2 separate regions of the Homo sapiens genome follow, and region 1 is linked to region 2. The links come from fine-mapping of genetic effects on gene expression. A gene starts in region 2. The other region holds a variant in brackets. All regions are shown on one strand. Distances are between the middles of the regions. Region 1 overlaps LOC124904719 (a long non-coding RNA gene). Region 2 holds the start of DYRK1B (dual specificity tyrosine phosphorylation regulated kinase 1B).

Region 1 (5,380 bases), 34 kb before region 2:
AGTTCTAACAGTTATTTGCTGGACTTCTTAGGATTTTTCTATATACAAGATCATGTCATCTGCAAAGAGTTTACTTCTTCCTTTCAATCTGGATGGATGCTTTTTTTTTTTTTTTTTCCTTTCATGCCTATCCTGACTAGAACCTCCAGTACAATGGTGAAGTGGTGGAAGCAGACACCTTTGCCTTGTTCCTGATCTTCGGGGGAAAGCATCCAGTCTGTTTTCACTAAGTATGATGTTAGATGTGCTTCGTAGAGGCCCCAGTGTCAGGTTGGGGAAGTTCTCTTCTATTGTTAACTTCCTGAGAGTTTTTACCATGAATGGGATTTTGCTAAATGCTTGTTTTGTATCTATTGAGATGATCATGTGGTTTTTGTTTTGTATTCAACTGATAGGATATACTATATTAATTGATTTGGGGATGTAAAACCAATCTTGCATTCATCCTGTGATAAAGCTCATTTTTCATGGTACGTACTTCTTTTTATATATTACTGGATTCCATTTGCTAGTATTTATTTGAGGATTTTTGCATCTGTATTGGTAAAAAGATATTGGGCTGTAGGTTTCTTGTGGTGTCTTTGCTTGGTCTTGGTACCAGGGTAATACTGGCCTTAAGAATGAGTTGGGCAGTGTTCCCTCTTCTATTTATTGGAAACCTTTGTGAAGAACTGATATTAATTCTTCTTCAAATGTTTGGTAGGGTCAGTGGTGAAGGGCCTAGGGTTTTCTTTGTGGGTAGTTTTTATATTATTAATTCACTTTCTTTGCTTGCTATAGATTTATGTAGATGTCCTATTTCTCTTAGACTCAGTTTCAGTAGTTTGTGTCTTTCTAGAAATTTGTTTTTCATCTCAAGTATCTAGTTTATTAGCAAATAGTTGCTCACAGCATTTATTTCTATAAGGTTGGTAGTAATGTCTCCTCTTTCATTTCTTTTTTTAAAAATTTAAATTTTATTTTAATTGAAAAAATAGTAATTATATATATTTATGGGGTACAATGTGATGTTTTGCTATGTTTATATTGTTAAATGGTTAAATAAAACTAATTAATAAATCTGTCACCTCACATACTTATTTTTCATGATGACATTTATGATAAGTGAAATAAGCCAGGCACAGAAAGACAAATAGACTCCATATATATGTGAGATACATGGAATCTAAAAGAGTCAAACTCACAGAAGTGGAGAGTAAAATGGTGATTACCAGAGGCTGGGGAGGAAGATGGATGGGGAAAGGGAAACTGTTGATCAAAAGGTACAGTTTCAGTTAGACAGGAAGAATAAACTTTAGTAATCTATTGCATAAAATGGTAATTATAATAAATAATAATTTATTGTACATTTCGAAGTCCCTTTTTCATTTTTGATTCTAGTAATCCAGTCTGCTATTTTTTCCTGGTATATCTAGCCAATGTTTTGCCAATATTTTGGTTTGTAAAAGAGTCAACTCTTGGTTTGGTTGATTTTCTCTATTGTTTTTCTATTCTCTATTTCACTTATTTCTGCTCCAATCTTTTATTATTTTCTTTTTCTACTTGCTTTATGTGTAGCTTGCTCTTCTTTTTCAGTGTCTTAAGGTGAAAATTTAGGTTATTTTCAATCACTTCCTTAATATAGGCATATACATCTATCAGATTTCTTTTAAGCACTGTTTTTGCTGTATCCTACAAGTTATAAGGTATATTATGTCTTCATTTTCATTTATATCAAAGTATTTTCTAAGTCCCTTTTAATTTCTTCTTTGACCTCTTGGTTATTTAAAAGTGCATTGTTTATGAGAACATATGGACACAGGGAGGGGAACAACACACATTGGGGCCTGGGGGTGGGTGAAGGGAGAGCATCAGGTTGGATAGCAAATGTAATGCATGCGGGGCTTAATACCTAGGTGATGGGCTAACAGGTGCAGCAAACCACCTTGGCTCAGGTTTACCTATGTAAAAAACCTGCACATCCTGCACATGTATCCCAGAACGTAAAATTAAATTAAATTAAAATTTAAAAGAGAGTGCATTGTTTAATTTCCACATACTTGTGAGTTCCCCAGATTTCTGTCTTTTATTTATATATAATTTCATTATGTTGTTATCAGAAAGTATGCATTGTATTTCTACTCCTTTAAATTTATCAAGGTTTATGGCCTAGCATGTGGTTTATCCTGGAGAGTGTTCCATGTGCACTTGAGAAGAATACAAATTCTCCTGTTCTACAGATATCTGCTAGGTCTAGTTGGTTTATAGTGTTGCTCAAGTGTTTTATTTCCTTATTGATTTTCTGCCCAATTGTTCTATTCGTTATTTTTTTCCTGACTTGAGGTATGACTGACAAATAAAAATTGTATATATTTAAGATGTACAATGTGATGTTTTGATATACATTGTGAAATGATTACCACAACTAAGCTAATTAATATATTCATCATCTCATATAGTTACAACATTTTTTTAAAGTTGGGTATCAAAATCTCCAAATATTGTTGCTTATTGTGTATTTCTTCATTTCTGTCAGTATTTATTTAATGCATGTCGGGGCTCTGTTGTTGGATGCCTATGTGTTTATAATTGTTACATCTTCCTGATACAGTGACCTGTAGATCATAACATATTTCTTATGTCTGGTAACGTTTTTTAAAGTCTATTTTGCATTATTAGTATCGCTGTTCCAGCTTCCTTGTGGTTGCTGTTTGCATGATATATCTTTTTTCTTTCTATTACTTTCAAT[A/C]TTTTGTATCTTTGAATCTAAAGTTTGTCTTCTGTACACAGAATATCATTGGATATTGTTTTTTAATACAGTCTGAAAGTCTCTGCCTTTTGATTTATTCAATCCATTCACTTTTAAAGTTATTAATGATATAGTTAGATTTACATTTGCCATTTCACTTTTTCTTTTCTATGTCTTATGTCTTTTTTGCTCTTCTATTCCTCCTTTATGTTTTCTTTTATATTAAGTGAAAGTTTTCTAATATAGGATTTTAATTTCTTTACTGATTTTTTCACTAATTTCTGAATTATTTCCTCCGTGGTTGCTCTACGGCTTATCATATACATCTTATCAAAATGAGCTTCAGATTTATACTAACTTAATCCTAGTGAGATATAGAAACATTGTTCCTATGAAGCTCTATTGCCTTTTCCCACTTTTTGTTAGATGTTATACATATTGCATCAAACATTATAAACCCAGGAATGCACTGCTTTAATTATTTTTTTATACACTTTTTTTTTTTGAGACCGAGTTTCACTCTTATTGCGCAGGCTGGAGCGCAATGGCGCGATCTCGGCTCACTGCAACCTCTGCCTCCCGAGTTCAAGCGATTCTCCTGCCTCAGCCTCCCTCGTAGCTGGGATTACAGGCATGCGCCACCACGCCCAGCTAATTTTGTATTTTTAGTAGAGATGGGGTTTCTCCATGTTGGTCAGGCTGGTCTCGAACTCCCAACCTCAGGTGATCCACCTGCCTCAGCCTCCCAAAGTGCCAGCCCTATTACAAGCGTGTTAATTTTATCGTGAGAAGAAGCTGTTACTCTTACTGGGGGTTCCCTTGTAAGTGACAAGGCATTTTCTTTTTTCTGCTTTCAATTTTTTTCCTTGTCCTTGGCTGTCAGTATTCTTACCAAGATGTGTCTGTGTGTGTGTGTGTCTGTGTTCATTCTACTTGAAGTTCATTCAGCTTCTTGGATAGGTATTTTATTGTTTTTCAATAAACTTAGGAAGTTTTAAGCCACTGTTTATTAGAACAATTTTTCTGTTTCTTTCTCTTTCCTCTCCTTCTGCCATTCCTATTGTTTTGCTTAATGGTGTTCCACATTTCTCTAGGGCTCTACTTATTTTTTCATCTTTGTTCTTTCCCCCCATTCTTTGGATTGCATTATTTCTATTTTCTTTTCTTTTTCTTTTTTTTTTTTTTTTTTTTTTGAGATGGAGTCTCGCTCTGTCACCCAGGCTAGAGTGCAGTGGCGCAATCTCGGCTCACTGCGTTCAAGTGATTCTCCTGCCTCAGCCCCCTGAGTAGCTGGGACTACACGTGTGCCACCATGCCTGGCTAAGTTTTGTATTTTTAGTAGAGGTGGGGTTTCACCATGTTAGCCAGGATGGCCTCGATCTCCAGACCTCATGATCCGCCTGCTTTGGCCTCCCAAAGTGCTGGGATTACAGGCGTGAGCCACCACACCCAGCCTTATTTCTACTTTCAAGTTTGCTAATTCTTCTGTCAATTCAAATCTACTATTGAGCTTCTCTAGTATATTTTTTTCATTTCGGTTATTATACTTTTAGCTCTCGATTTCCATTTGGTTTTATTTTATAATGTCTAACTTTTTAGCGATATTTTTTATTTGACCATACCTTTCCTTTCCTTTTTTAAAAAAATGGGTTTCCTTTAGTTATTTGAACAGATTTATAATGGCTACTTTGAAGGCTTTGTGTGCTCAGTCTGACATCTGGTTGCTTTCACTGGACGTTTCTGTTGCCCGCTTTTTTTCCAGTGTAAGGGTAACATTTCGTTTCTTCCAGAACCCATAGCACTTCTCTTTCCTAACTAGCATTGTCCAGTAAAACACCTGTAGTGATAGAAATGTTTATATCTGCCCTGTCCAATGTAATAGCCACTAGCCACATGTGGCTATTGAGCACTTGCAATGTGGCTAGTGTAACTAAGAAAGTGAATTTTAAATTTTATTTCATTTCGATTAAGCATAAATAGCCATATTTAACTTCAAGAAGATAAGTGGCTATCTTCTTGAACAATGCAATTGTAGGCCATGCTCAGAGTACCAATTCCTTAGAATTCCCTACTCAAATGTTCCCAAACCTGCTTCCAGCAACTGTTTGGGCCTCTTCCTAGTCCATCTTCTACCTGACACCCAGAACAGATCATGCTGGTACGCACACCCCAAACCCAAGGGGTAGGCAAGAGGTGATGTGGGGTACATGCACCAAGCTCCAATGTGCAGGCTTGGTATCCACATACATGCATGAATAACTCCTTAGGGGTACAGGACATCAACAAGGAAGGCAAGAGAAGGGAGTAAGCTATAGATAGGGCGCCTCCATTTGTACTCTTTGTCCAGGATCCACAAATGCTAGAGATGTCTTTGACTGGTAATGTCCCATTTCTTAGCTATGTGATGGCTACATGTGTGTTCACTGTATAATTTTTTGACTCTATTTATATGTACAAATGTGCACGTGTGTATGTGTATAGGTATACACATATATGCTATATTTCACAATTCTTTAAAATGATTAAAAAATTTTTACCACTATTAGGATAAAGTCCTAGCTCGTTCCATGATATATAAAGCCTTGTACAAACCATCTTCTGCCTATCTTGGACCTGATCTCCTGCCATTCTCCCTCTCTCCTGTCACCTCTA
Region 2 (5,380 bases):
CCTAAGGAATTTAACCACTGGGTCAGGATTTGAACCCAGCCTCTCCAAACCCTGACTCTGCCTGAAAACTCCTCTGTTATTTTCCAATCCCATGGGACCCATTATGTGCCCAGAAGAATGTCTTGGGCAACCACACTACCTTTTGGTCTGGAGACCTTTCTATCCCCAGCCTCCCCCTACCACCACGCAGGTGAGGAGCCAGCTGAACGCGTACCTGCGTGTGCTCCTGGGGCCCTGGGAAGCCAGAGAAGGGACCATGGCCCGGTGGGACGGCCATGGTGGGCTCAGAGGGCCGCAGGGGAGCGAGGCCTGGAGCGGGAGCCCGGCCGGGGGGCGCCTTCTTGCATCCTGCACCTCGGCTGCCACCGCCGCTGAGACCTGAGAGCAGACAGGAAGTGGGAAAACAACATGGAACAAGGGGATATGTGAATAGTGCCAGGCGGGGAAGAGTGGACATGAGAAAGACAGGGCACAGAGAGAAGAGGAAAAGGGCACAACGGAGCAGCAGATAGCAATGAAGAGAAGGGGCAGAGAAGTGGTAGCCAGGTGGGGGGGGATGGCACAGCAGTCCCTCGACAAATAATGATCAAGTAAATGATTAAGGCAGCACAAAGAGAACACATAAAAGACAATGATTGGGGGCCAAGCAGGGGTCGATATGAGCCATCACAGGGAAAGGAGGACAGGAAGACACCAATAATTCAGAGGAGGAAAAGAAAAAAGAAACCACAGACAGTATGCAGAGGAGTAGGCTTCATTCTTTTCTCACTACTCGTGGCCCTCCCCAGGGCCCCTAACACAAGATGCCACTTTCTGTAGTCTTCCCTGAACATCAGGATCTCAGCCCGTAGCACAGCCAGGGCCAATACTTTAAGATCTATCCTTCTCAGTAGATTCCCTCAACCCAGAGAACTCTAGGATTCCCAAACCACATGAGTCTTCCCCTCCCAAACCACAGCAGAGTCCTCTGCAGCCCTAAAACCACATCAGCGTCCTTGGGGACCTCCCAACCACACCAAAGTTATCTGAGAACCTCTATAGAACAGAGTCCTATCTCTACAGCATTCTCATCCACCAGGGCACGATTTTCCTAGGGGACCCTCTCCATATCATGCCAAGACCGCTTCCCTATTTCAGGTCCTCCATATTAGGAACCAGCCTTCCAGGTAGTCTCCCTGTACCATATCCCAATTCCCCCTACCACAACAGGGTTCTTCCCCATATTACTCCAATATCCCATCCCAATCAAGGCCCACTCCTCCTGATGGGAGAAGGAGGAGGTGTCTCTTCCCACAGTTTAGAGTGATCATCCTTTTCTCCCCTACACTGCTTCCTTGCCCCCCTACACACACACACACACCCTAATATTCCTACCACAGACCTTTCTCCAGGCACCCCTCTTTATACCAGGGTCATTCCACAACTGTGTCCACTCCTAGAGGGCCTCAAAGTCAAATCCCCAAGTTATCACATAGGGTTCTCTCCTCCCAGAGTTGTCAGCTACAGCAAAAATCTTCTCCCCATGGGCCACTCTCTCCCCCATGTCAAATCCCTTTCTCCTATTCCATGCCTTGCCACTCCACGACTCCTCCACCCTTGGAGCTTCCCCCAAAAAACCACCTCTTCTCCGGGGCCCTCCCACACCAGGATCATCTCTCCCAGCCCCCACCCCCTACCCGGGTCAGGGCTGGCGCGGGGCCCACGGGGGGCTGGGGCGCGGTGGGGCCCCCAGTGGGGTGGGCGAGCGGCCAGCATGGCGGCGGTGGCGGCGCTGAAAAGGCGACCGCCTGTCTCTGGCCCGGCCGGCCCCGCGGCGGGGAGGGCAAGCGGGACAGGAGGCCCGGTGGGTGACAACAGCAGCCGCCACTGCCACCGGGGGCGGGGAGAGGAGGGGACAAGGGTCAGCCCAGGGCACGCGGGGGAAGAGTAGAGCAGGTGGACGGGGGAGGGGCGACACGCCCCACCCTGAGTGACCACCAGCCCCTAGGGACCCGGCGTCCCGCCCCCCACCCAGGAGGCCCTCCTGGGCCTGCTGAGACCGGAAGGCGGGGCCCGACTGAGCTTGGCAATCGGCACCTGCCATGGCAACAACTGTACCATTGGTCGCTGGTGCCAAGAGCTCAGCCAATCACAGCCTAGGGCAGCTGTTGCTAGGCGACGAAGAAGCGGCCCGCGGAGCTGAGCCCAAACAAAGGGCGGGAGTGGGGCCCGGCTACCCCCTCCCAGCCTCCCTCCTGCAACTGCTTCCTCGGGCTTGGCCGGTTCCAGGAATTCAACTATGAATAGCCAGGCAGGGCCCGCACCTGCCTGCCACCCCCCTCCTCTCCTCCCTTGGCCTCGTGCTAAGTCTCACGGCGACGGGAGCAGGGCGGATCCCGTCCTGCCCACCTCCCTGCGACCGCTTGCCGCCCCACCCGTCCCCGCGCCGTTACCTGAAGGAGCGGGCAAGGGGACTCAAACTGCTCGGGGAGCCCGAGCTCAGACCTGCCCACTGGCTGAGGGTATCCGGCGGACGCGGCAAGCCAGGGCCCCGATTACCCAGTAATGCAACCAGCAAAATGGCGACCACAACAAACCGGCCCCCCCACGCCCTGGACTCCGCCCCCATCCCTCCCTCTCCGCTCCCCTCACGTGACCCACACTGACACTCCGCCTGCGCGAGATGGCCGCTTACCTGCACGCATGCGCAGCGAGCTACCAATCCCACCCAAGAACCGAAATCCAGGCTGCCGCTGCGCAAAGGCAGCTAGAAACGGAGCATGCGCTCTGTGACCGAGTGAGAATTTACCCAACCCCGCAAAATTGACCAAGGGTGCGTGCTCCCTGTGTCAGCAGGTCAAGGGGAGGAATGAGCAGCAGACATGGGAGACGGATGAGTCTTTTAATAGAAAAACACACGTGCAACAGTATCAACACACATCTCTCGCAATCCTGACAGCGCTGAACTTCAGTTCTTCACCTTGGGGGGTGGCCTGTGAGAGGAAGATAGGTGATGAAGGAGGGTCCCCAGGATCATGGCACTCGGGGTGCAAGGGACAGAGATGTCTGTCTTGGTGTATTGCTGGGCCCCTGCTCACCTGTACACTCCCACGACCACGGCATGGTCTCTTTCATATGGCTCAAGGGTCAACTGCTCCTGCGGCTTCATGTTCTCCTGTTGCATCTTTTTCACTTCGGAGGCAAACACGGCCTCGGCTGAGGCTGTGGAGTCAATGCAGTTGGCCTAAAGAGGAGAAAGGACTAATGTCTACAACAGGGCTTTGGGCTGTTTTTCTCTTGTGTGCTCTTTAAACCAGATGTTTTCATTATTAATTCAAGTAAAACTCAGTGCTATGGTTCTAGTGTGTCCCCCAAAGTTCATGTGTTGGAAACGTAACCCTTAAATGCAAGAGTTGAGAGGTGGGACCTTCGAGAGATGATTCAGGTCATGAGGCCTCTGCCTTCCTGAATAGAGTAATGCTATTATCACAAGAGTGGGTTGCTGATTAAAAGGATGATTATGCCCCCTTTCTATCTTGCTCTCACCCTTCTGCCAATGGATGACAGCAAGAAGGCCCTCGCCAGATTCAGACCTCCAATCTTGGACTTTCCAGCCTTTGGAACTGGGAGCCAAATAAATTTCCATTCATTATAAATTACCCAGTCTAAGGCTGGGCGTGGTGGCTCACGCCTGTAATCCCAGCACTTTGGGAGGCCGAGGTGGCTCAATCACGAAATCAGGAGATTGAGACCATCCTGGCCAACACGGTGAAACCCTATCTCTACTAAAAATACAAAAATTAGTCGGGTGTGGTGGCGCACACCTGTAGTCCCACCTACTCGGGAAGCTGACGCAGGAGAATCGCTTGAACCCAGGAACTGGAGGTTGCAGTGAGCCGAGATCGTACCACTGCACTCCAACCTGGTGACAGAGTAAGACTCCATCTCAAAAAAATAAAAATAAAAATAAAAATAAATAAATTACCCAGTCTATAGCATTCTGTGATAGCTGCATAAAATGGGCTAAGACACTCGGGTTTAGGAAATGTGATAAAAGGCTTAATGAAAGTTTTTGGCTGGGTGCAGTGGCTCGTGCCTGTAATCCTAGCACTTTGGGAGCCTGAGACAGGCAGATTGCCTGAGCTCAGGAGCTCCAGAGCAGCCTGAGCAACATGGCAAAACCCCGTCTCCACTAAAAATATAAAAGTTAGCCAGGTGTGGTGGCACACGCCTGTAGTCCCAGCTACTTAGGAGGCTGAGGCAGAAGAATTGCTTGAACCTGGGAGGCAGAGGTTGCAGTGAGCTGAGATTGCACCACTTCACGCCAGCCTTGGTGACAGAGCGAGACTCTGTCTCAAATTAAAAAAAAAAAAAGTTTTTAGTTTTGTTTTGGATTTGAAGCAGGAAGCCTTAAACAGTCCTATTTATCTAAAAGCCAGTGCTTAAATTTTATACCCAGGAATTGTTTGGCTTATTTCTACTTCCTCTTCTTTAATAATAGTAATAATGCAGTTGAGAATAATAAAACAAATGTAGCAAAAGGCTAACAAATGGTGAACCTTGTGAAGGGTGCATGGGAGAGTTCTCCATTATTTCCAAATAAAAATGCTGTGAAAGATGCACCTAGCTTTTATCTAGTATCTATTCTATGCCAGGATCTTTTCTAAACACTTCATATTATATTGACTAATTTGATCCTGTCATCTACCCTGAAAAAGACTAGACAATATTTCTATTTCATAAGTGAGGAAACTGAGGCATATAGGTTAAGTAACTTGCTCAGTCACACAGCAGGCTGGGATTAAACTCAGATGGTCAGACTCAATTTTGCACTTGACCGCTGCACTCTCCTGCCTCTTTAAATCCAAAGCTATAGTTTTGCAGACTTGGCCCCTCTGTTTTGGGTGGCTATTTGACAGATACAGATAGAGAAGATACCTCCCTAGAACACTGCCACCCCATCTTAGACTCTTCCAAACCCCGCACCTTAATGGAAATCACAAAGTGTCCTCCATTACGCAGGAAGGTGTGGGCATTCAGGGCCACAATCCGGGTCTGGTCTGGCTGGGCCACATCAGCAAAGATCACATCCACCATTGCTAAGGAGAAAGGAGCAGCAGTTAAAAGTTGGAGTCACAGGGATCACCCCAGATCCTCCCATGGGGCCTATGCCCATCACCAGCAGGTTCCTGGGAGATTCTCCCTGCCTCCAGTTTCACTCCCCACCTCCACTGGTCCCCCTCCCTCCAGTGTCCCAAGATGAGTCCAAAACCCACAGTCACATCATTCATCCACTCTTCTTGTAAACCATGGTTGCCACCTACTCTGTGGCCAGCCCTGGGCCGGGCGTGGGGGACATAGAGACGAGTCAGACCCGGACCCTGCCCTCGAGACGCTCCCA

What was found. PIP is the estimated chance that this variant, and not a neighbour inherited with it, causes the effect. A credible set is the group of variants that fine-mapping cannot tell apart.
Region 1: its variant is the best candidate, but not a certain one, in a credible set for the expression of DYRK1B in whole blood (INTERVAL, PIP 0.76).

The regions. Positions count from the first base shown.
Region 1 is chr19:39,797,422-39,802,801 of GRCh38, forward strand. The region is part of intron 1 of LOC124904719 (a long non-coding RNA gene); the gene reads right to left. Among named protein-coding and RNA genes, the nearest start is that of LEUTX, 21 kb to the left of the region's middle. The variant A/C (reference allele first, on the strand shown) is at 2,729.
Region 2 is chr19:39,831,591-39,836,970 of GRCh38, forward strand. It overlaps DYRK1B (dual specificity tyrosine phosphorylation regulated kinase 1B), which reads right to left and starts at 2,572. Exons shown (of 11, transcript NM_004714.3): 1 at 2,433-2,572; 2 at 215-378. The coding sequence starts at 277. It overlaps FBL (fibrillarin), which reads right to left. Exons shown (of 9, transcript NM_001436.4): 7 at 4,966-5,078; 8 at 3,078-3,223; 9 at 2,868-2,972. The coding sequence ends at 2,948. RefSeq lists silencers at 1,745-2,014, 2,275-2,384.